6 separate regions of the Homo sapiens genome follow, and regions 2, 3, 4, 5 and 6 are each linked to region 1. Evidence: fine-mapped expression QTL. A gene starts in region 1. Each other region holds a variant in brackets. All regions are shown on one strand. Distances are between the middles of the regions.

Evidence for each region. PIP is the estimated chance that this variant, and not a neighbour inherited with it, causes the effect.
Region 2: its variant is fine-mapped to the expression of GSTM3 in left ventricle (GTEx, PIP above 0.99). The same link has a PIP of 0.9 or more in cerebellar hemisphere, cerebellum and sigmoid colon.
Region 3: its variant is fine-mapped to the expression of GSTM3 in subcutaneous fat (GTEx, PIP above 0.99). The same link has a PIP of 0.9 or more in sun-exposed skin, tibial nerve, transverse colon, unexposed skin and visceral fat.
Region 4: its variant is fine-mapped to the expression of GSTM3 in whole blood (INTERVAL, PIP above 0.99).
Region 5: its variant is fine-mapped to the expression of GSTM3 in sun-exposed skin (GTEx, PIP above 0.99). The same link has a PIP of 0.9 or more in tibial nerve.
Region 6: its variant is fine-mapped to the expression of GSTM3 in vagina (GTEx, PIP above 0.99).

Annotation. Positions count from the first base shown.
Region 1 is chr1:109,738,985-109,743,070 of GRCh38, forward strand. It overlaps GSTM3 (glutathione S-transferase mu 3), which reads right to left and starts at 2,054. Exons shown (of 9, transcript NM_000849.5): 1 at 1,969-2,054; 2 at 1,256-1,527; 3 at 849-924; 4 at 445-509. The coding sequence starts at 1,303. RefSeq lists a silencer at 1,264-1,493.
Region 2 is chr1:109,759,225-109,763,310 of GRCh38, forward strand. It overlaps EPS8L3 (EPS8 signaling adaptor L3), which reads right to left. Exons shown (of 19, transcript NM_133181.4): 2 at 2,495-2,549; 3 at 2,271-2,335; 4 at 454-612; 5 at 14-163. The coding sequence starts at 2,525. It overlaps LOC124904258 (a long non-coding RNA gene), which reads left to right and starts at 641. Exons shown (of 2, transcript XR_007066303.1): 1 at 641-726. RefSeq lists an enhancer at 1,342-2,071. The variant G/C (reference allele first, on the strand shown) is at 2,085.
Region 3 is chr1:109,711,785-109,715,870 of GRCh38, forward strand. It overlaps GSTM5 (glutathione S-transferase mu 5), which reads left to right and starts at 467. Exons shown (of 8, transcript NM_000851.4): 1 at 467-564; 2 at 834-909; 3 at 1,335-1,399; 4 at 1,700-1,781; 5 at 1,877-1,977; 6 at 3,163-3,258; 7 at 3,346-3,456. The coding sequence starts at 529. The variant A/G (reference allele first, on the strand shown) is at 1,669.
Region 4 is chr1:109,633,011-109,637,096 of GRCh38, forward strand. No RefSeq gene overlaps it. Among named protein-coding and RNA genes, the nearest start is that of AMPD2, 15 kb to the left of the region's middle. The variant A/G (reference allele first, on the strand shown) is at 2,216.
Region 5 is chr1:109,669,563-109,673,648 of GRCh38, forward strand. GSTM2 (glutathione S-transferase mu 2) reads left to right here. Exons shown (of 8, transcript NM_000848.4): 5 at 1-9; 6 at 1,725-1,820; 7 at 1,911-2,021. Among named protein-coding and RNA genes, the nearest start is that of GSTM2, 3.5 kb to the left of the region's middle. RefSeq lists an enhancer at 262-361. The variant C/T (reference allele first, on the strand shown) is at 2,186.
Region 6 is chr1:109,955,394-109,959,479 of GRCh38, forward strand. No RefSeq gene overlaps it. Among named protein-coding and RNA genes, the nearest start is that of AHCYL1, 27 kb to the right of the region's middle. The variant AT/A (reference allele first, on the strand shown) is at 2,246.

The sequences.
Region 1 (4,086 bases):
GTGGTGTGTGCCTGTAGTCCCAGCTCCTTGGGAGGCTGAGGTGGGAGGACTGCTTGAGCCTGGGAGGTTGAGGCTGCAGTGAGCTGTGATTGCGCCACTGCACTCCAGCCTGAGCGACAGAGTGAGACACTGTCTCAAAACAAAAGAACAAGAAACACACAAAAAAGAAAATACCTGATTTCTACTAGTGACAAAGTGACAGACATGGCTAATAACCAATGTCACTTATTGTCTCTCTTCACAATAAAAGGAAATAACTTTTGCTAGTGGTTAATGGGAATGAAAATACATATCCATCCAGTTCAAGGACCCCTGAATTCTATTTATTCTATCCGGGTTAAGATCCCCTATTTTGCATCCTTCTGTACCAGGCAGGAGAGAGGCAAGGATGGATATACTTGAAGGCTTTCCCTTCTGCCCGCCACCTCTACTAAAGCCACTTACATTAGGAAAGTCCAGGTCTAGCTTGAATTTCACATCCAGCCATTGGCTTCGATCATAGTCAGGAGCTGTAAGAGACGGAATTAAGTGGGACCCAACCTCCTTAATACCCCACCTGACAAGAGCAAAAGATCTAAAGAAATGACTTGGTCCCAATACCTCAAATTCCCAGGCCCCAAAAGCATAACCATTGAGCCTCTGAGCCCTATTTGGTTAAGCATTAAGACGGGTTTGGGCTATGTTAAAAAGAGAACCCCCAGTTCCAGATAAAGGATGTGTCTCTATTCACCCAGATTGGGGCAAACGTCCCACCCGGCCTTGGCGCGACGCCACCACCCTCTGGGCGTAAGAAGACCAGGGCAGGTGGAGGGCCAGCTTGGCTGCACGGGCACGCGGAGCGGCATTACCTTCCCCGCACGTGTACCGTTTCTCCTCATAAGAGGTATCCGTGAACTCCAGGAGCAGGCGGATGGCGTGCGCCAGCTGGGGAAGACAGCGGTTCAGCGACTGCGCAGCTCCCACCCATTCCCAACCCCCGCCCGCTAACGTTCCCCGGCCCGGGGCTGCCGAGTCCCTGCGTCCTGCCGGGGCGGTGGTTAAGCGGCCCCTAGGCCCGGCTCCGGCGTGGTCTCCTCCGCCCCTCCCCACAGGGCCCGCGATCCCAGAGGCTGGGCAGGGGTCGACATCCGTGGCTCGGCAGCTCGAAAAGGCTCCCGCGTAGAGCTGCTCCTGCTGGAGATCGCGGACCCAGAGACCCGCCCTCTCCGCGTCAGTCTCTTTGACCGAGCGGCTCTACCGTTGAGACGGCACTCACCCCACGAATATCCCAGTACCCGAGAACCATAGACGACTCGCACGACATGGTGACGGGCTTCCGAGCCTTCGAGGACTAGGGAAACTGTGAGCGGGAGGGGCTTTATACCCGACATAAGGGGGCGGGGCCCACGCGCGGGCGCCCTGACTCCGCCTCCGCCCCGTTCTCCGTCCCTTGCCTCCGCGGCTCCACAGGGCCGTGCGCAGGCGCGACTAATGCCGGCGTTGGGGTTCAGGGCCTGGCGACCCCGAGGCGGGACCCGGGCAGGAGTGCTGCAGGAGAGCAAAGGACCCGAGGTTGAGGCTCCTCCCTTCCCCGCGGGTGGGAGCCAGACTTCATTCATTAATGGTGCCAGTGAAGACGCGAAAAGCACCACTAGCCAGGCAGTGGGGACCCTAGTTACCCAGGGAGAGCGAGATTCGCGCCGTTTTTACCGAGCCAGCCGGGGCTGGATGAAGGATAGGAAGACTGGGGCAAGGCCGGAGAGTCAGACCAGCCTCTGACCACACAGAGCAGAAGATTCCCCACAGACCAAGCTCCCCTCTCTGTCAGTCAAGGACCTCTGCAACCTGACCCCAACGTGCTTTTCCAGTCCTGTCTCTCCCTCAGCCCGTCACAACTTCATAAGCCAGCCCAACCCAACAATACTTGCTGTTCCTTCTACACACACTTGCATTTCCCACCTTGGAGTGTTTGCTCTGTGATCCTCCTACCTGCATCCTAATTTCCACAGCCTATCCTTCCTCAGCAGCCTTGCTGAAATGTCTGCCTATTCCTTGAAGCCTTCTCAGAACCAACCTCTATCCTGGCCAGAAGAGGTCTCTTATCTTGAATGTTTCCTACCTTTGTTTTATGGGCTTAAGTAATTTATGGATTCCTTATTATAATTTCCTCCTCCAATCCCTCCCACTTCCTAATGCTCACGCATTTAGGGAAATTAATCTTGCCTCTTTGTGTAGGATGGACTGGAGGAGGAAAGGTACTACCATTTTTCATTCACTCATTCATCTGTCCAACAATGTTTAACATGCCTGTTATGGACAGGCACTGTTTTAGGTGCTGGGGATACAGAACTGAACTCAACAGACAAAATCCCTGCCCTCAGGAAGTTTACATTCTAATGGGGAAGAAATAAACTAATATATAGTAAATAGCTAGTAAGTCAGGTGGTGATACACATCCTATGGAGAGAAATAAAATCGAGAAGAGAGATAGGGGGTCTCAGGGTGGGAACTGGGGGAGTCCCAGTAGGAAGGGGATTTATGTTTTTAAAGGTTATGTTCATAGAAGGCCTCATGGAGAAGTTAATCTTTAAACAAAGACCTGAAGGAGGTGAGAGATCAAGCCACTCTGCTGTGGGGGCCACCATGGGCTGATATAAATATAAAACAGAATAATTGCTGTTCCTTTTACAAGCATGTTTGCTCTGCTCCTGCCTGCACCCTAATGTCCATGGCCTAGCCTTCCTCAAGTAGCCGTGCTCAAATGCTCACTTCTTCCTTGAAGCCTTCTCAGAATCACCCTCTATCCTGGCCAGAAGAGTTCTCTCCCTCTCTTATCTCGAATCACTTCCTACCTGCAGGAGGCAGAGAGAACTCCAGGAAAAGGGAAACAGCAAGTACAGGAGTGATCACTCTGTGTTTGAAACCAGAGACTAGATGAGATCACCATGGGAGCACGAGTAGCAGAGATGAGGTCTAAGGGTTTGAGGTGCTCTGGCATATCAACATGTAAAGGTTAGGGAAAAATGAGAGCAAACCAGCAAAGGAGTCTGAAAAGGAGTGGCCAGGGAGGTAGGAGGAAAACAAAAGGTCCCAGAAGCCATGTGAAGATGTTTAAAGGGAGAAGTGATCAACTATGTCAAGTGTGGCTGATCAAGTAAGATGAAGATGGAGAATCAATGGTTGAATTTAGGAAAGTAGGGGTTTTGACCTTGACAGAGCAAGAGACCTGCCCGAGGCCCCTATAGTCATGGGAAGAACTAAGCTTCTGAATTTCGGCAGGGCCCATGCAAATGAAAAGGGGCACAGATTTGCAACAGGGTCAACTCGGGAGACATAGGATTCTAGTTGAATGTGGAGGAGTGACAGAGGAAGGAGTCCGGAGCTGCTCTGAGGGTTCTGGCCAGGCCTCTGCAGCACAGCTCTCAGGGCAGTCTGAGAGCCTAGATCCCCTAGCTCAGGTGTGGGAAATCACATTTGCCCATCAGTTCAACTGAAGCAAGGTTGGGACTTTTTAAAAGGGCATTTTGCTAAACAGAAGAAAGGAAGAGTACAAACCACATGGACAGGTGAAATTTATAATGCCTGTGTCTCTCCTCCCAAGAAAGCAAAAGGCCAGTCACAAATTCACCTGAGGTATAAGATTAACATTTATTGAGCACCTATCATATGCCAGGCAATATCTAAGTGTTTACGTATGTTAGCTAATTTATTCCAATTTAAGCTTCACAACAACTTTAGGAAGTAGGTGTTATGCCCATTTTCTTTTCTTTTTCTTTTTTTTTTTTTGCAGTTTTTGCATTACTTTCTTTTTTTTAAATTTTATTATTATTACACTTTAAGTTTCAGGGTATATGTGCACAATGTGCAGGTTTGTTACATATGTATACATGTGCCATGTTGGTGTGCTGCACCCATTAACTCCTCATTTAACACTAGGTATATCTCCTAATGCTATCCCTCCCCCCTCCCCCCACCCCACAACAGTCCCTGGAGTGTGATGTTCCCCTTCCTGTGTCCATGTGTTCTCATTGTTCAGTTCCCACCTATGAGTGAGAACATGCGGTGTTTGGTTTTTTGTCCTTGCGATAGTTTGCTGAGAATGATGGT
Region 2 (4,086 bases), 20 kb after region 1:
CCCGACCACTCACCCCCACTTCCTGGCACTGGAAGAGCAGAGTGCTAGTGCCTGGCAGGCCCGGCTCCTGCACGGTGATGGACAGGATGGAGTTGTAGGAACATGTGTTGAGCGCCACATTCATGGCCTGGATGCTGTCTAGGCGGTAAGAGTCCAGCTCCTCCTGGGCCAGGTGGAGAGGTCAACTGTGAGGCCACCAGAGCTAGGTGTGGCTTCTGGGAGCTCCTGACCAGCTCATCCTAGCCCTTTGGTGGCCTAGGGCTGAGGTGTCATCTACCTGACTCTTGTGCCTCTGTCCCCAGCCTCTGTCCCCTGTCTCTTCCTAGGCTTGGGTGTGTGTTGTATGTGGGGAGAGTGGCTGCCCTTTGGGGCATGGAGGGTGGAGTTCAAGAGCTAGTGCTTGCTTCCCCACAGCCCAGGCTGGCTATCACTGGGTTTGCTGGGAAGGCTGACCTTGGTCTCAATGTCCAGCAGCTGCAGCCAGCCGTCCCTGACCTGCAGGATCAAGTCTTGGCTCCACACCCGGCCCTGTGCATCCATCTCGAACAGCTTCTGCAAGGCATCCTCGGGCCCCTGGACTCTCTGACTCCCCTGCTTGCATGTCATCAAGTGCTGCAGGGAGAGGGGGAGTCCTAGGACTGGGAGAAAGCTCAGAGAGGTGGACCACAGGCGTGCTGGGTAGAGAAAAGCAGAAGAGGAAGAAGACGTGTCCTCGGCCCCCTTGAGGTAGGAGGTTCCAGGCTTCAGATAAAGCAACTTTCCAGGGCCAATGTGAGGGACGGTGTCGAAGCACTGGGGCCAGGGATAGGGCCTCCAAGTCTGAGTCTGAGGGGCTGCAGGAGGGGTTTGAGGACTCTGGAGGAAGGACAGGCATGGCCTTTACTAGTCCAGGCCAGGTGAGGCAGCTGGGTGGTGGAGGATGTGGGCTCCAGCCACCCAACAAATAACTCCTCTGGAGGTGATACAGGACCCTCAGATTCTGTCCCTGGCTTCCTTTGTTCCTTTTGGGAACTCAGTCCCAGCCCAGTCTTCCTCCTCACTCACCCAGCATTCCTGTCTCCTTCTCCCTGGTTCATGCCTGGAGATATCCATCGTGATCTCAGTCTCCGCTCAAGTCCTTGCCTACTGCTAGGCTGACCATCCAGGAGTTTTTTGCTGTTATCCACTCTCCTTTAGGAGCCCCCTCCCTTCTCCCAGCCAAACATTACCTTCACAAGGCCCCTTCCACCCAGGCTTCTTGTGGTAGGGAGATGCAGCCTGCCTCCTGCCCTTTGACCCCACCCCCCTGCCCAGGGCCCAGCTCTTCTCCCTGTGTTCGCACTGCCAGCATATTCAGGGGACTCTGGCATCATGAGCAAACTCCATCCTCCTCTTGCTCTGCCTGCTGGGCCTAAAAGAAGCCTCTTCCCAGCCTCCACCCTACAGAGAAGCTGAGTCCTCCTGGCCTCTCCTCGGCTGGCTAGGGGAGCTCTGCCTCTGCTGCCCTGTGGGACCTGCTGCCCTGTGGGACCTGCAGACCATCGCCCCAGCTCCCTCCCTGCTTGTTCTCCATTGGAGCCACTAACAAGTGGTGGCCAGGACAGGATGGCTTCTACCCCAGAGCTCCAGCCTGACCCTCTGCCTGCTCTCCCCACCACGCCCTTGTAGCCTGTGCTTCGCCTTCACCTTGGTGTCGACAGCCCTTCAGGCACCTAAATCTTGCAGTGCCTGCATCATCCTCCCTGGTAGAGCCAGAGACTCCATTCTAGCCTTGGAGCAGCCTCGGAGCTGCTCACAGTCACCCTGGAGGCTTGGGCCCAGGTGCCTCCCCTCTCCAACAGTGGCCCTCTCAATCCCCCACAGGGCCCAAAGATCCCAAAGATCCCACACACTCCTGCCTCCAGCCATGCAAGGTCTTGGGCAATGGAGCAGTGCCCTGGGGACTCGGGCAGCAGGGGGTTGGGAGACAGGGGAGGGTAGGTGGGTGGGTGGTTGTAGGTGCTTCTTATCCCATCCTGCTGCTACTTCTTCCTGTCTGGGGACAGGACACTCACCCGCTCAACCTCCAGCCAGGCCTGCTCTGTTCAATCTGACCACCCCTCCCC[G/C]TCCCTGACACTGAGCAGATGCTCTGGCAGGCTTGTTGGATCTGAGTCCATGCGACATGGTTGGGACAGGCTGTTGGCTTCTGGGGCAGGGACTTGTGTGAAGTGTCCATGTTCTGGCAGGGCGGTGGGCACATGGGAACACTTGGGTTTAGTTGGACACTGCCCGGGGGCTGCAGAGGTACTCACCTCCACCCTGTGCTGCAGGAGGGTGGGCTCTGAGGTGAGGTTCTGGGAGTACTCCTTCCGGTGCACTACAAGGGCACAGAGCAAGGGGCGGGAGGTGGGCAGAAGAACGAGGTGAGACTCAGGCAACTGCTGGGGGCAGTTGGTGTGAGGAAGGGGGAGTGGAGGATGGGACATTCTGGGGGCTCAGTGGGAGGGCACGGGAGAGGGGCCTGCCAGGAGCTTACAGTAAATGGCTCTGCTGCTGGGCCTTGACATGTTGACGCTGCTGAGGACGGCTCCCTAGAACCCAAAGTGAACCAGAGGCAGCCATCAGAGCTGGGGAAAGGTGTACCAGGCACAGCAGGGCAGGACAGTTGCTATTGCTCTGACTGGGGGCCTCTGGGACCAGACCCAAAGCCCCTGGCTCCAGGGGCCCTTTCCGGAGCCATCTGCAGCCAGCGTCCTCCACTGAGGAGCCCTCCATCCTGGCTGGGCCTGGAGGCCCCGGGCTGAGGGAAGGGAGGGTCAGGGAGGCCACAGCATGGCTGGGCCTCAGGGAAGGCTCCAGGCCTCCCATGGTTTGGCTGATAAAGCTCATGCCAAGGAGCCCAGGAAACCTGGATGGACAGGGACCTGCGTTCAGATCCTATCTTGGGCCTGGGTATGAAAGATGCTGGATGAGCAGAGGGTTCTGTAGCCGACCCCGCCAGAGGAGGCCCTCTTGTTCGACCCTGTTTCAGTTCTGCAAACTGAGAGGACGCTGATGCTGGCTCTTCAGCTGTAGACCCTCTGGGAAGACTGCATGCATGTGTGTGTGTACTTATGGTGGCACTGCAGGACTCGCCAGTGAGCTGACCTCCCCCAAGTGTCTCCCTAGGCCTCCTGGCTCTTTGCTTTTTGTACTCTGTATCCTCTGCCCAGGTCCCCTCCTGACCCCAACCCTTTAAATTCTAGCTCAAAGATCACCCTCTTGGTGAAGCCCTCCTGGACCATCCAACCCCACCCTGCCCAGGGTACCCTCCTAATGCTGCACTGGACCTTGTACATTTATCTCCAGCAACAATAGTCACAATAGCCACCACGGTGCTGTGAGCCTGGTGCTGAGCCCCTTACCAACATCCTATCAGTTTCTCCTCACTGCCGTCCACTTGTACTTACTTGGCGCCACGTGCCTAGCACTGTTCTAACGGCGTTACCTTCAGTCACTCTAATCCTCAAAACAACCTCACAAGGCAGGTACTGGTATTGTCCCCATTTACCATATGAGGACTCTGAGGCTCAAAGACGGTAACAGGCCTGAGGTCACAAATGAACGTTTAATAGAGAGCAACCCAGATCTGTCCGATTGCAAGCTTCGTGTTTTAATGGTTTATAAACATGCCTCTGCCGCTGGGCTGTGCGCAGTCACAGAGGGAGTCTAGAGAACATACATGTTGAAATGGAGTGGAATTAAATGTGGTGTGTGTGTCCCGGGTGGGGGTGGTGTTAGTCTGTGCGGGTCAAGGGTATGTGTTATCCAAATGAGGTTTGTGGGTATCCACATGTCTACATGGTACACCTCAGTTGTGCAGAAATACTGGACTACCCCGGGTAACATGTGAGAGAGCAACCCATACCCTTGTTTATTAGGACTGTTGTGAAAATGACGTAGGATCTGATAAGATGACTCAGTGTGGAAGGAAATAAACTGCCAGTGAACAATTAAGGGAATGTGGAAGGGACGGCTGGATCTCTGGTTTCCTTGTTTGGGAGGACCCCTTTTCTCTCCAGGGGTAAGGCGGGGCTAGAAGCCTGTTCCCCTTCCCCAGCCTCCCCCAACCCCCATTGTAACACTTCC
Region 3 (4,086 bases), 27 kb before region 1:
AAGTCCTGCTCTTACAGTGACAGGGGCTGAATTAAATTCCCAGGTTGGGACCACCACTTTTTAGTCTGACCCCTGCAGCCGGAGTCTCCCAGAGCCCTTGGGAACTCGGCAGCGGAGAGAAGGCTGAGGGATTCTGCGGGCAGGGAGGAGAAGGGAGAAGAGCTTTGCTCCGTTAGGATCTGGCTGGTGTCTCAAGCGCACAGCCAAGTCGCTGTGGACCTAGCAAGGGCTGGATGGACTCATGGAGCCTCAGGGCGGGTTGGGGAAGCTGGCGAGGCCGAGCCCCGCTTTGGGCTTCTGGGCGCCCTGACCTCGCTCCCGGAACCCTGGGGACTGGGAGGCGGGAGGGGGCTTATTGATTCCAGCCCCGGGCGCTCGCTCGGGGGCCTACAGAATGGCGTGTTTCGGGGTTGTGGCGGGCCGAGGGGCGGGGTCGCAGCAAGGCCCCGCCTGTCCCCTCCTGGGCCTCTCAAAGTCTGAGCCCCGCTCCGCTGATGCCTGTCTGCAGAATCCGCACCAACCAGCACCATGCCCATGACTCTGGGGTACTGGGACATCCGTGGGGTAAGCGAGGGTCCTCTGGTGGGTGGGACAGGGGGCGGAGGCGGGGATGTGTGGAGTAGCTGCAGGACTGGCTCTAGGGACCGTTCCTCTTCAGGGCTGCCCGCCTCAGAAGGGCCTGTGCATGACGCTGTGTGTGTGTTTGGGGGTGGGGGCGGGTAGAGGAGGCGACGGGTACGTGCAGTATAGACTAGGGGCTGGCCTGGTGCAGAGAAAGTCACCAAGTCAGGGACCCTCCATCTCTGACCCGAGCCGCGGGCCATCTCTCCCAGCTGGCCCACGCCATCCGCTTGCTCCTGGAATACACAGACTCAAGCTATGTGGAAAAGAAGTACACGCTGGGGGACGGTAATGGCACCCTCGTGTCCGGGCCCTGCCCACTCACGCTGAGTTGGCACCAAGCAACCCATGGTGGCCACCTGTGGCTGCCTCTGCAGGCCTCCCCTGCTGGAGCTGCAGGCTGTCCCTTCCCTGAGCTCCCGTGAGTGAGCCCTCTGGCCTTGCAAGGCAGAATGCTGGGGCGGGATGCTGGACACCCTGTCTAATTGGGTTGGGTGTCCCTCAGAGCTTCCCTAAACCCTGGAAGCCTTAGCCGTTGTGGGGTCCAGAGCCCTCAGTGGGATTCTTTCTCCCTGAACCCTGGGATGTGGGACTGAGTGGTCAGATTCTAGATCCACCTGTCTCAGGGATCTTGCCACTGGCTCCTTGGGAGGGTCCCCGGGAAGGAGGGCTGGGCTCTGGGGAGGTTTGTTTTCACTTCTTCCCCACCACAGCTCCTGACTATGACAGAAGCCAGTGGCTGAATGAAAAATTCAAGCTGGGCCTGGACTTTCCCAATGTAGGTGCAGGGGAAGGGGCGGTTTTGGGGGAAAGTGCGACGTGTCTCTGACTGCATCTCCTCTCCCCACCTTAGAGGTGTTAAGATCAGGAGTCTTCTGCCCAATTCCTCTCACTCTTGGCTGTCTACACAGCCCTTGCATGATGTTCTGTGTCCCAGCTCATTTATTAGTGTGACAGTATTTCTATCTCAGGCCTGCCATGAGCAGGCCCTGGTCTCCTCTCTGCCCTTGCATATGGGAAGGGGATGCTGGGGAGCCTGGTGGCCCA[A/G]CTGAGCTTCCCCGGTTTCCCATCTATCCAGCTGCCCTACTTGATTGATGGGGCTCACAAGATCACCCAGAGCAATGCCATCCTGCGCTACATTGCCCGCAAGCACAACCTGTGTGAGTGTGGGTGGCTGCAATGTGCGGGGGGAAGGTGACCTCCTCCTTGGCTGGGCTGTGATGCTGAGATTGAGTCTGTGTTTTGTGGGTGGCAGGTGGGGAGACAGAAGAGGAGAAGATTCGTGTGGACATTTTGGAGAACCAGGTTATGGATAACCACATGGAGCTGGTCAGACTGTGCTATGACCCAGATTTTGTGAGTCCCACACCCCACTCCCAGTCACCCATTTCCCTGCCTTTTGGCCCAGACCAGGGAGGGACTTCCAAAGTCAGGTCTGTAGCAGACTCCGGCCAGCTGACTGGAGACGTCTATAACCTGGTTCTCCAAAATGTCCACACGAATCTTCTCCTCTTCTGAAGATTCTTGTGGACATTTTGGAGAACCAGACCACGGACAACTGGATGCAACTGGTCATGATCTGCTACCACCCAGAGTTTGTGAGTCTCCCCAGTGAGCTGCACCTGGCAGAGTTTGGATTTGGGGCCAGGACTCTTGCATTCCTGCACGCACTGGTCTTTTCTTAAGTCCTTGGTACCACTCATCCTCCAAGTGCTTTCCCATACTATCAGCAGTTATTCTCACGACTCCAATGTCATGTCAACAAAAGCAGAGGCAATTCCCACCAATCTTAGGACACGATCCAGGCATCCCACGGTGGAAATTCAATTCCTAGATGGTAAAATTTGTGTTCAGAATCTCCTTCATCTCCTCTGGCCTCTGGCCTCTGTCATGGGTCATTTCTGTCAGTTGATTTATATCACCTACCTGCTCCTAGAATATACAGACTCAAGTACAAGACCAAGGAATGTAATGGCACCCTCAAATTGCATCTTCTCCTCAAAGTTTTCCAAGTGCTGTCATTGACATGCACCGGGATCTGCGCATTTTCATAACAGACAGCTCAGAGGCAGCCAGAGGGCCTTTATTCCTCTCCCTCCTTCCTTTCAACTTGAACTTCTCATCTCCCTGGAAACTAGTCAATGTTCATTGTTTTCTTCTGTCACCCCATTAGAAGGAACTTTCTACTTCTTTCCCTGAGCTCCTTTAGTTCTTTGCATCCTTGATTCTGCCCCTGTCTGGATCCAGAGGCTGCCAGGTGCTCGGGCGCTCATGCGGCTGACCCAGAGGCTATTGGGAGGCCAGTGAGGACAGATTCAGGAAGAGCATCTCATTCTGATCACTTCAGATAGGGTCTGGCACCCAGTCAGAGTCTAATAAATGCTGATGTATCCAATTGAAGCCTGGGCACTGCCCCGGTTTTAGTTGTGGGGAAGATGGCTGCTTGCCTGTGGCCAGCCTGGGCCATCTACAGCCCTGGGGAGGCCACGTCTGTGCAGGGAGCTTTTGTCTGAGGGTGGTGACAGCTGTTTTCTGCCTCAGGAGAAACTGAAGCCAAAATACTTGGAGGAACTCCCTGAAAAGCTAAAGCTCTACTCAGAGTTTCTGGGGAAGCGGCCATGGTTTGCAGGAGACAAGGTAAAGGAGGAGTGATATGGGGAATGAGATCTGTTTTACTTCATGTGTTTCGGGGTTTTCAGCCCACACATTCTTGGCCTTCTTCAGATCACCTTTGTGGATTTCCTTGCCTATGATGTCCTTGACATGAAGCGTATATTTGAGCCCAAGTGCTTGGACGCCTTCCTAAACTTGAAGGACTTCATCTCCCGCTTTGAGGTGATGCCCCCATCCTCCTTTCTCTTTGATGCCCCTTGTTCCTTTCTCTCCTTTCAGATGCTTTCCCAGTCCTGGAGCTACACAAAGAATAACTCGTATGTATTGAGTACGGGCTTCATGCCAGGAATCATGCCCAGCACATTATACCTATCGTGTAGAATTTGAAATTTCCAACATTCCTACAGGGTGACAGAATTATCTTGCCCATTTTAGAGATAAGAAAACTGAGAATGAGAGGGTCAGTCCTTTGCTCAGGGTCCCAGAGCCAGTGGAGGCTGTGCTGGGCTCCCTGTGAGCCTCTGGATCTATGGGTGGCAGTCAGGGCTCTCCCATTTGTGACAAAAGGAGAAGCCTCAGGCCTCATCCAGCCTGGGTTTCACAGCCCAGAACACTTTGAAAGAGGCAGAGCACTTCAGGACCACGGATGCAGCTGGCAATAGTAGGACTGACACACAGTGGCATTGATGTTGAGTACTAAACCTGCAGGCAGTATTCATAGCCACCCCCAGAAGCTTTGCATGATCGGACCCCCATGTGGAAAATCCTGAGATCCGGAGCTGTGGCTGGAGCTGGATTAGGGTACATATGTGGGTGCCCCTGTTGAAGCAGTGTGTGTTGAAGTGCTCTGTG
Region 4 (4,086 bases), 110 kb before region 1:
CAAGCCCTCTCCTGGTCAAGACCCAAGGCCCTTCAGTTCAGAAGACACCCCTTGCCAATTCATCCTGGCCACTTACATGTCACAGAATTGAACGTTGGAGCCCGATGAGGGTGGGAGGTGGTGAGTCCAGGGCTCCTTCACCCATGCTGGGCCTCGGCTGCCCAAGGATCCCCCTTAGAAGGGTGAGGGGAACTCACTTTTCAAGTAGGTGAATAATTTAATAACACAAGTGAGCTGTGTCTTGTCTTTGTTTTAACAAGGAAGCAGGATTAAAAGATTTTTCTAGAAGGTCTTTTGGAGGCAAGAACTGCCTGTCCTGTCTGCCAGCACTTAGGACTCCATATTTACTTGTTGAATTTGTCATTTAATAGAATCCTTCAGTTCACTTTCTTGTCTCCTGTTTTTCTTAGTGTGTGTTGAGGCTTAGCTCTAAGAATATTACTAATTTAAAGTTCCTTAGCAGCCTCTTCACGGTTTATTTTTGAAACGAGGTCTTGCTCTATTGTCCAGGCTGCAGTGACCTCCTGGGCTCAAGTGATCCTCCCACCCCAGCCTCATGAGTAGCTGGGACTACAGGCACGTGCCACCTGTAGACGGGGTTTCACCATGCTGTGCAGGCTGATCCTGAACTCCTGGGTTCAAAGTGCTGGGATTACAGGCGTGAGCCACCGCACCCAACCCACAATTTATTTTTTAAACAACTTGCCTCTGGTTTCTTAGTTTCTCAGAAATTTCTCTTTCAAATATTTATCAAGAGAAAATAATCTTAAAAGGCCTTAATACTTCTTCCTATTTGAAAAGAAAATCATTTTCATTAAAAAAAATTTGGAAAATATAGAAAAATAGGAAGAAATAAAAGCCCACTCATAATCTACCAGTTTCACCAAATATTTGCTGCATGCCTGAGATATATGTAGATATTTTAATGCATATCTGTGCATATTTCTGTATTCTTTTCAGTTCTTTTTAAAATGCTATTTTTAAGTTGAGATCACAAGAATGATTTAGGCTTTTTAAAATTTTTTATTATTATTATTATTTTTGAGATGGAGTCTCACTCTGTCGCCCAGGCTGGAGTGCAGTGGTGCAATCTTGGCTCACTGTAACTTTTGCCTCCTGGGTTCAAGTGATTCTTCTGCCTCAGCTTCCCAAGTAGCTGGAATTACAGTTGCGTGACACCACACCTGGCTAATTTTTTGTATTTTTAGTAGAGATGGGGTTTCACCATGTTGGTCAGGCTGGTCTCGAACTCCTGACCTCAGGTGATCCACGTCAGCCTCCCAAAGTGCTGGGATTACAGGTGTGAGCCACCGTGCCTGACCCCGGCCTATTTTAAAAAGTATTTTAACATACGTCTTTCCACATGTCATCAAAATACTCTGCAAATATGAATGTGAACTACTGTGCACCACCCCCGGTGAGCCTCCCATGGTTTATGATTACAGCTCTCCTCTGTTAAGAATGACTGTGTCCTAATGTGACCAACAGTGTGCACTCTGGGTTTGACTTCTGTTTCCACCACTTTCAGGCTGTGTGACCTTAGGCAAGTTACTTCCCCTCGCTGTGCCTCCAGGTCCTCACCCATTTCATGGGGATAATAATAGCACTTTTCTCACGGGTTGATTTTGAATTCATTCAGCCACTGGATATAAAGCACCAAGCAAGAACTCAGTAAATCTTAGCTATTATTATCTTTGCCTAAATCTCTCCAGATTATTCCCTTAGTCTAGATGCCCTGAGTGAAATCACCAGGTCCAAGGTAGAATTTTTTTTACTGTTCTTGATAGAAATGAATCAAAGTATGTGAGCAGAAATAAAAAGTCATTTCCTTGCCCTCGACCTTGCCTGCACCTTCCATGCCAGCCCGCCACCTCCTCTCCTCTTTTGGAGCCCCACCCCCTGCCCTTCCTCTCGACCTGCTGTGTGTGCCTGCGTGTGTGAAGGTGCCCGCATCTTCTTCCTGGTCAGGGGCCAGATCTCACATGGAATGGGGGGGTGAGGGGGAAGGAGGGTGGGTGGCAGAGGGAGTAAATAAAATAGGCAACCCAACCTGTCTCCTTCCAAGGTTTGGGACCTGTCCTGAGTGAAGTCGACCCTGGGGGACTGTCCCTCATCTGTCCCTAAAGCTCTCAGACTGGGAAGTATGAGGGCTGTGTGCCAGGCCACATCTCACATGCCCTGCACGGGGTCCCCTCTCCGTGTCCACTCCTGGGGG[A/G]GTGGAGGGGAGCAAGTGGGGAGCTATCTGGGCCCCCAGGCTGCGGTAGAGGATGGGTAAGGGTGTTTGGTTAGGGTGACAATAATCCTGATTTCTAAACCCTACATCAGAACATTTACCCTATCAAAGTATTGCCTCACTTATGAATGTATTCATATGAAATTCCAATAAAGGCTTAAGCCTTAACTCAGGTTTAATCCAATGTTTGAGAAATCACTATATTTTCAAAATGAGAGTGAAACTGCCCAAATTAGGATGCCCTGGGCAACCTGGGGTGGGTGGTTTCCGCAGCTGGGCCTGAAGCAGGCAGCCTGCAAGTCTAGAAATGGGGGCGATCTAAGTGCCTTGCTTTTGTGCGCATACCTGTCTTCTCCCGGCAGACCCTCAATGTCACCCCCACCCCCTGGCAACATGGGAGAGCTGAAAGAAAACCTCTGAGGGCTGCAAAATATGGAAAAAAAAAAAAGTTGAAATTGACAAATGTTTAATGAAATGCCTTCAGAAAGTAGCATGTCAACTTCAATATTTGTTAAGTCACATGCCATTATATTTGAAAACAATTTGTAAGTTGGATTTTTGACAAGAGTTCCAGAATATGCAATATGATTAAAGAGAAAGCATAGCCAATAGTAAATTAAATGAGTTACTCATAGTCAAGTAATTTCAAAAGCAAATTTATAAAAACCCCTTTAAAGCAAAGCAGTTATATTTAATGAGGGGGTGTGGGTGCATTTTAAATGCAAGTGAGTGTGGGGCCTCCAAGAATCAGATGCAGGGTCTATAAAGGACTTACTTAAAATGGCTCAGCCCCGCAGTCCCACTCTGGGCCAGGGGGGTTGGCTCAGATTTTGGTCTTGCCGTCACCTTCAACTCTCCTGCCTCCCTAAATAGTCTGGGCAGATTTGGAGCAGCTACTGCTGCCACTGGCATCTTCTCTGAATCTGTGCAACAGATATGCACAGCTGGAATTTCTGTCTCCCCTTTGCAGATGAGAGACTGACCTGGGTTTAAACCTGAGTGTTCTGTTTATTAGCTGGGCAAGTCAGCCCTCCTCCCTGACTTCCCAGGCCTGGAGGAGATATGCAAAGGGGAGTGGCTACCAATCCATTCCCACCAGGGTCCCAAGCTACTGCTGGGGTATGCTGGTGTGTCTACTACGCATTTGCCATGGTGGGGTAAAATACCTATGAGCACCTGGCATTGGGCTGAACTCTTTGTAAGTGTGAATGTACTTCCAGCTCCTAGAACTCTGCATGATATCTATCACCATATTCCCTCGCGTCAACAGGGAGAATGAGGTTCGGGAGGTTATGTAACTTATCCAGGATGACTCAGCTAATGAGTGCCAGAGCTGGGATTTGACCCCAGAACTGTCAGGCTGCAAAGTCTTTGTTCCTCCTACTCTATCATGGTCCCTGGGGTACGTGTCTGGTTGAGGGGGTCCCTCTAGGGGTGGGGTGCTCAGGGAAGGGACAGGGTCAGGCTCTGATGAGCAGAAGGATCAGTGCGGGTGAGTCTAGAGGCAGAAGGGTCATGGAGGAGGCTCCTGCCACATCCCGGGTGTGATTGACAAGGACCTGGCTGGTGGCAGTGTGGGTGGAGAGGAGCTTTTGTGGGGAGGCTGCTAAGACCAGTAGTTAAGACAGAGGTGGCAGAGGTGGCCACAGGATTGTGATTGGCTGGCACAGCCTGATATGAGATCGAGAATGTGAATGCTCTGAGGCGGCTATTAGCCTGACCCCTCCCGGTTACCTTATACCCATCCCAGTCCATACACTGCCAGAGAGGTACTGGGTTTGTGATCCCCGGGCTCTATCCCACGGCACAGCTGTCACTTATTAGCCATAAGATCCTGAAAATTTCTAGGAACT
Region 5 (4,086 bases), 69 kb before region 1:
CCAGATTTTGTAAGTCCCCCCACCCCACTCCCAGTCTCCCCTTCCCTACTCCCAGTCTCCCCTTTCCCTGCAGAGTTTGTGTCCAAAATTGATTCCTTCTGGTGAGTTCTTGGTCTTGCTGACTCTAAGAATGAAGCCGCGGTCCTACACGGTGAGTGTTACAGTTCTTAAAGATGGTGTGTCCGGAGTTTGTTCCTTCAGATGTTCAGATGTGTCCGCAGTTTCTTCCTTCCGGTGGGTTTGTGGTCTTGCTGACTTCAGGGGTGAAGCCGCAGACCTTCGCAGTGAGTGCTACAGCTCTTAAAGGTGGCGCGTCTGGAGTTGTTTATTCCTCTTGGTGGGTTCATGGTCTGGCTGGCTTCAGGAGTGAAGCTGCAGACCTTCATAGTGAATGTTATAGCTCATAAAGGTAGTTCAAACCCAAAGAGTGAGCAACAGCAGGATTTATGGTGACGAGTGAAAGAAAATACACTTCCACAGCCTGGAAGACAACCTGAGCAGGTTGCTACTGCTGCTTGGGAAGGGCGGAGGTGGGGGGGGAAATCCCTTATTTGGCCCCACCCACATGCAGATTGGTCCATTTTACAGAGAGCTGATTGGTCCATTTTACAGAGTGCTGATTGGTCCGTTTTACAGAGTGCTGATTGGTCTGTTTTTACAGAGTGCTGATTGGTGCGTTTACAAACCTTTAGCTAGACACAGAGCGCTGATTTGTGCATTTACAATCCTTTGGCTAGGCAGAAAAGTTCTCCAAGTCCTCACCTGACCCAGAAGCCCAGCCAGCTTCACCTCTCATTTTGATCAGGAGCCAAGACTGTGGTCCTGCCAAATACACGGGTCCTGTTTTCTGTTTGAACTCTTTAGTGCTACTCATCCTTCAAGCTATTTCCTATACTGCCACCAGAGTGACCCTCAAACCCCAAAGTCGTGTCAAATAAAACCTCTAAATCAATTCCCCACCAATCTACTTATAGAATCCTGACTCCCCAGGGTATGAATTCACTCTCTAGACAGTAATGGTTACTTCCAGAATCCCTTCCATCTCTGACCCATGACCTGTGCTTTGGGCCATCTCTCCCAGTGGTTTATATCATCTGCCTGCTTTAGGAATACACAAACTATGAGGAAAACAAGTGCAAAACAAAGGAGTAATGGCACCTGAAATTTTGGTGTCTTCCGAGTGCTCTCTTGACATACACTGAGATCAGCGAATTTTCCTAACAGACAGCTTAGGGGCAGCCAGAGGCTCTTTTTCCCCCTCCTTTCTTCCACTTATCCTCTGAATATCTCCTCATCTTTCCAGAAACCACTCAATGTCCATTGTATTCTACTGCTGCCCAACTAGGAGGAAATTTCTACTTCTTTCTCTGAGCTCCTTTAGTTCTTTGCATCCTTGATTCTGCTCATATCTGGTCCAGAGCCTACCAGGTGCTCAGGTGCTCCTGGGGCTGACCCAGAGGTTGTTGGGAGGTCAGTGGGGACAGATTTAGGGACAGTGTCACATTCCGCTCTGCCATCCCATCACCTCAGAAAGACTCCAGCTACCCAGTTGGAGTCTAATAAATGCTGATGTATCCAGCTGAAGCCTGGACAGTGACCCAGTTCCAGCTGTGGGGAAGATGACTGCTTGCCCGCGGCCAGCTGGGGCCATGCACAAAACTGGGAGGCCGCATCTGTGCAGGGAGCTTGTGTCTGAGGGTGTTGACAGCTGTTTTCTGCCTCAGGAGAAACTGAAACCAGAATACCTGCAGGCACTCCCTGAAATGCTGAAGCTCTACTCACAGTTTCTGGGGAAGCAGCCATGGTTTCTTGGGGACAAGGTAATGGGGGCGTGTGATGGGGACACCACAGATTTGTCATACTTCCTATATTATGGAGGTTTCAGCCCACATATCCTTGGCCTTATCCAGATCACCTTTGTGGATTTCATCGCTTATGATGTCCTTGAGAGAAACCAAGTATTTGAGCCCAGCTGCCTGGATGCCTTCCCAAACCTGAAGGACTTCATCTCCCGATTTGAGGTGATGCCCCCAGCCTCCTTTCTCTTTATGTCTCTTATTCCTTTCCCTCCTTTGTGATGCTTTCCCAGTCCTGGAGCTACACAAAGAATAACTCACATTTTTGGCCATGTGCGGTGGCTCACGCCTGTAATCTCAGCGCTTTGGAGGCTGAGGGAGGCAGATCA[C/T]CTGTGGTTAGGAGTTTGATACCTGCCTGCCCAACATGGCAAAACCCCATCTTTACTAAAAAAAAATACAAAAATTAGCTGGGCGTGGTGGCGAGCACCTGTAATCCCAGCTACTTGGGAGGCTGAGGCAGGAGAATCACTTGAACCTGGGAGGTGGAAGTTGCAGTGAGCCAAGATCGTGCCACTGCATTCCAGCCTGTATGACAGAGTGTGACTCCATCTCAAGAAAAAAAAAAAAAAAAAAAAAAGGAGCCGGGCATGGTGGCTCACACTTGTAATCCCAGCATTTTGGGAGGCCGAGTTGGGTGGATCACCTGAGGTCGGGAGTTCGAGACCAGCCTGACCAACATGGTGAGACCCCTGTCTCTACTAAAAATACAAAATTAGCTGGGCGTGGTGGCACATGCCTATAATCCCAGCTACTAGGGAGGCTGAGGCAGGAGAATCTCTTGAACCTGGGAGGCGGAGGTTGCGGTGAGCCAAGATCGTGCCATTGCACCCCAGCCTGGGCAACAAGAGTGAAACTCCATCTCAAACAAAAAAAAGAAGAAAAGAATAACTTGCATTTATTGAGTGCTGGCTTCATGCCACGAACTGTACCCAGCACATTATACCTATTGTGTTGAATTTGAAATTTACAACATTCCTACAGGGTGGTAGAATTATCTCCCCCATTTTAGAGACAAAGAAACTGAGAATGAGAGGGTCAGTCCTTTGCTCAGGGTCCCAGAGCCAGTGGAGGCTGTGCTGGGCTCCCTGCGAGCCTCTGGATCTATGGTTGGCAGTCAGGGCTCTCCGTTTTGTGACAAAAGAAAAGCCTCAGGCCTTGTCCAGCCTGGGTTTCATAGCCCAGGACACTTTGGAAGAGGCAGAGCACTTCAGGACCACGGATGCAGCTGGCAATAGTAGGACTGACACACAGTAGCATTGATGTTCAATACTGAACCCACAGGCAGTATTCACAGCTACACCCAGAAACTTTGTATGATTGAACCCCCATGTGGGGAATCCTGAGAGCCAGGGCTGTGGCTGGAGCTGGATTAAGGTACATATGTGGGTGCCCCTGTTGAAGGAGCTTATGCTGAAATGCCCTGTGCTGGAGCACTTTCCTTCTCTACCTCTTTTTTTTTTTTTTTTTTTGAGACGGAGTCTTGCTCTGTCACCCAGGCCGGAGTGCAGTGGAGCAATCTCGGCTCACTGCAACCTCTGTCTCCTGGGTTCAAGTGATTCTCCTGCCTCAGCCTCTTGAGTAGCTGGGATTACAGGTGTGTACCACCACGTCCAGCTAATTTTTGTATTTTTAGTAGAGATGGGGTTTTGCTATGTTGGCCAGGCTGGTCTCAAACTCCTGACCTCAGGTGATCCACCCACCTCAGCCTCCCTAAGTGCTGGGATTACAAGCGTGAGCCACCGCGCCTGGCCTCTTCCTCTCTTTTTTTCCCTCCAATGTTCCAGGTGTTCCCCCTGTGAGATGAGTAGCACGCTGATTTTACTCCTGTTCACTGACCTTCTCCTCTGCATGAGGCAGGGTGTGAGGCACAGTGGGAGATGCATAGATGACAGCCCCATCCTGGAAATGAGTGCAGTGAGAGGCCTGCAGGCAGAGCAGCCTGTGAAGTGTGTGCTGAACTTGTTTGAGAGCAGCAAATCCTACATTACTACAGATTTGGGGATTTGAGGCATTTGTCCAACAGGCTTCTGAGCCTTGAATCTGTTTCCCTTTTCCACTCCCCATCAAGAGATCTGCTTGCTCAGCTAGTTCCCATCAGCTCTGGTTCTGCGGTTCTGGTCCAGGCTGAGTGGCCTTGGAGTTAGGTAAGAGGTGGTGGGAAGGGAGGGATGGAGGAGAGCTGAGAGCTATGGCCCGTTATGTGCCAGGGTCAAGCCTGTCACCCAGGCTG
Region 6 (4,086 bases), 220 kb after region 1:
GAATCTCGAAATCATTATGCAGAGTGCAGAAGTCAGATACAAAAGAGTATATGCTGTGTGATTCCATTGATGTAAAATGCAAACTAATCTCTAATGACAGAAAGCAGATCAGTGGTTACCTGGGGCCAGGGAAGAGAGACAGCTGGATGGCAAAGGGCATGAGGCATCTTTTGGTGAAATGTTCATGTTCTGTGTCTTGATTGTGGAGCTGGTTTTACAAGTGTATAATTTTCTTTCTTTCTTTCTTTCTTTCTTTCTTTTTTTTGAGACAGAGTCTCACTCTGTCGCCAGGTTGGACTGCTGTGGTGCGATCTCGGCTCACTGCAACCTCCAGCTCCCTGGTTCAAGTGATTCTCCTGCCTCAGCCTCCTGAGTAGCTGGGATTACAGGCACACGCCACCGTGCCTGGCTAATTTTTGTATTTTTAGTAGAGTCGGAGTTTCACCATGTTGGCCAGGGTGGTCTCAATCTCCTGACCTCGAGATCCGCCCACCTCAGCCTCCTAAAGTGCTGGGATTATAGGCGTGAGCCACTGCGCCCGGCCTCACAAGTATATAATTTTCAAAAGTCATTGCATTGTAAATTTTAAATGGATGTGGTTTAACTATACATAAATTATTCCTCTATAAAGTTGATTAGGAAAAAATAGATAATACACATGGTACAAAATTCCAAAGGTACAAAAGATTTTAAGTAAGTGCCCAACCTTAGAAGCAACCACTGTTACCAGTTTACTATGTATATTTCTAGACATATTTTTACTTAATATAAATTGCAGGTCTTTACAAATCAGTCCATTTTAAAAAACCCTCTTTCTTTTTAAAAAGTGTCCATTTATGGCTGTACCATAATTTGCAGACCCAGTCTCTAGTCAATGGTCACTAGATTATCTCCAATCTTTTTACAAACAAAAATGAGCATAAAATTGCTGGACTAAAAAGTATGTGTATTTTTTTTTCTATTTTTAAAGATATTGTTAAATTATCCTCCGTAGAAGTTATAGCAATGTATATTTCCACCAGCAATGAGAGTGTCTATTTTTCCATCCCTTGCTGACACAGCATGTTACAAAATATTCAATTTGATAGGTAAAAAAGTAAATATCACTATAATTTTATTTTGTGTTTCACGTTGTGAGCGAGATTGAACATCTCTTCACGTTTTTTAAGAGTCATTTACATTATTATTTGCTTTTATAGTTGCTTTTTTGTAAACTATTTAGATCTGCCTGCTTTTCTATTGGGTTGTTGGTCTTTTTCACATTGTTTTATAATAGTTCTTTATATATGGTCTTGGCTCAGATTCCCTATGAAACAGAACCTGAAGCAAAGCTCACATGGTAATGTTTTACTGAGGGAGTGCAAGCCCAGACCAGCATGCACGAAGGTAAAAATGGAAGGGAGGACAAAAAGGAGAGAAAGCAAATACAACATGGTGCATTATCAGGCTGACCATAGCTTCAGGAGGATACAGACAGTTGCTCAGTTAAGTTGCCCAGTTGTCAGAAGTGAAGGATGGTGGGAATGGGAACAAGAGGATTTTATCTGTCCTCCTATCTGCAGCCTCTCATAGATCCTTTTTTGCCACAGGGCATTAACTATCCTGCACTTCTGGGTTGCCTCACCTGCACAGATGGTGGGAAAGCCAGGTCCTATGTCCTACCTGAGACCAAAGGAGGAGAGCATCATATCTTCCAGATTTGGGTATCTGTGCAACTGTGGCCCTTGCCCAGCCTTCATCCTGGGGGGAGATGAGACAGGCAGTGTTGCTGGGAAGAAGGCAGAGAGGGCAGTGTTTAGGGCACCCTATGGAGCAAGCCACTGAGGCCCTGGAGAGGCAGGTAGATGTGAGCAATTCTGGAGAGAATAATAGTTATAGATATAGATACAAATATAATAATATATACTTATAATAATATGTATAATTATTGTTTTGCTGTATTATAATTTTTAGATATCCTCACTCACCCCCCCAAGTTTGTTATTTGACTTTAATCATTTATGTGATTCTTTTTGACCATGCAGAAATATTTGATTTTTATCTGACTGAATTTATCAATTCTTTATGTTATGGCTTCAGCCTTTTCTGCCCCTGAGATTATGAAAAAACAAACAAGCAAACAAAACCAAAAAAACTTTTATATTTTCTTCTTGTGCTTCTGGAATTTCATTTGTCAAAATTTAAATATGTCTGATCCATCTGGACTTTATTTTGCTATAAAAGCATATATTATAGATATAATTTT[AT/A]TTTTTCCAAGAGGCTACACATTGTCCCTGATGTAAAAGGCCACCTTTATCACATATTAAATATACTTATTTTTGAAGAGTTCTTATTGAACATGCTTTCACCTAATGGGTCTGAAGTTTACTAGGTCTCAGAAATGATTTATGGGAGGAAAGTCACAAAATTGTAGAGCTGGACTCTGTCCTGCACTATTATCCACTCTATAGAAGACAATAGTGGTCAAATAACAGAGTTAAAACATAATTAATATTTCATTTTGTAATACTATGGCCAAAGTTTCATCTCCTTCATTTCACCAAGATGTTGCTAGTTGTGGAGACATCGCCCAGTCCCGATGTATTGTTGTTTGAATTAAAGCTTCTTTCCCTGGAGAATGTTGTAAAATATAAATGTAGTTTTAGATGTGCTATTTTTACTTGGCATGGTCTGTGGGATAGCCTCAAAGGTATTTAAAATGCAAAAAAACAAAAACAAAAACAAAAACAAACAGTAAGACAGGAATGAATAGGAAAAAGAAAAAACATGTTTGAAAGAAATTGGACCTTCGAAACAACACTTGCCCTAGAGAATTAACCATTTATTTGTGCACCCAACCCCCTCCCCCCCCCATTGATTTAACTTGTACATCCTTCTGGCATAACCCCAAGACAATTTTAATGTCATTTAATTATTTATAGTCCATCCCTCCTGGCCAGACGGAAGCAAGCCATGCCTACATTTAATTCCAGGGCTTAGCCTAGAGCCTGAAACAGAATAGTTGCTTAAAACACATTTCTGAAATGAATGAAATAAAGAGTAGGTCAATGAATTAACCCAAGTCCTTTGAAAGCTTCTTCTGATGTCATCATTTCTTCCTCCAACCCCACCTGGACTCTGGGGTCCCACTGTGCCCTTTTACCTAATCACTGACTTCCTCACTTGCCCATTTATGTGTCTGTCTTCCCCATCAAAGTGTGAACTCTGAAGATGACTGCCTTAATCATTTTTATACCCCTAGCACCTGATATACACTATAAACATTTGTGGGGTGAATAAATGAATGAATTACAGTTACAGAGGCAAGCAATTAGAAAAGCTCTGAAAGTTGTTAAGGGGAAGCTAGAGTATCTGGTCTTTGCATCCAGAAAAACAGACTTCTCTTTCCAAAGGAGAAAATGTGGTTAAGTAGAAAGCCCATATGCTTTGGAGAGAGAAGGCCTGAGTTCTAATTCCAGCTCTTCCACTTACTTTGGGCAAGTCACTTATCTTATCTGAGCTTCAGTTTCCTGCACTGTAAACTGGGAATAGGATTGGAGATAATGTTTGGAGGTGTCCACCACAGGCATGGGCATGTAGTAGGCTATAGCTGTGCTTGGCTATTATTACTATTTACACTTATCGTTATTAAGAGGTGTAGGAGGAATACAGAGCAAAGAGAGCCGTTAAATTTAGAATTTAGGGTTGTGTGCGGTGGCTCATGCCTGTAATCCCAGCACTTTGGGAGACTGAGGCAGGTGGATCACTTGAGGTCAGGAGTTGGAGACCACCCTAGCCAACATGGTGAGACTCCGTCTCTACTAAAAATACAAAAAAAATTAGCAGGGCGTGGTGGTAGTCCCAGCTACTCGGGAGGCTAAGGCAGGAGAATCGCTTGTACCTGGGAGGCAAAGGTTGCAGTGAGCCGAGATGGTGCCACTGCACACCAGCCTAGGCAACAGGAGACTCTGTCAAAAAAAAAAAAAAAAATTAGAATTTGGGTAGCTTTGGAGGAGATAGTTTGGGTGTGGAACGGAGTGAGGGGGACCTCTAGTCATTGTCATGGTGATACTAACCATCAAATACTGAGCCTACACTCCAAACACA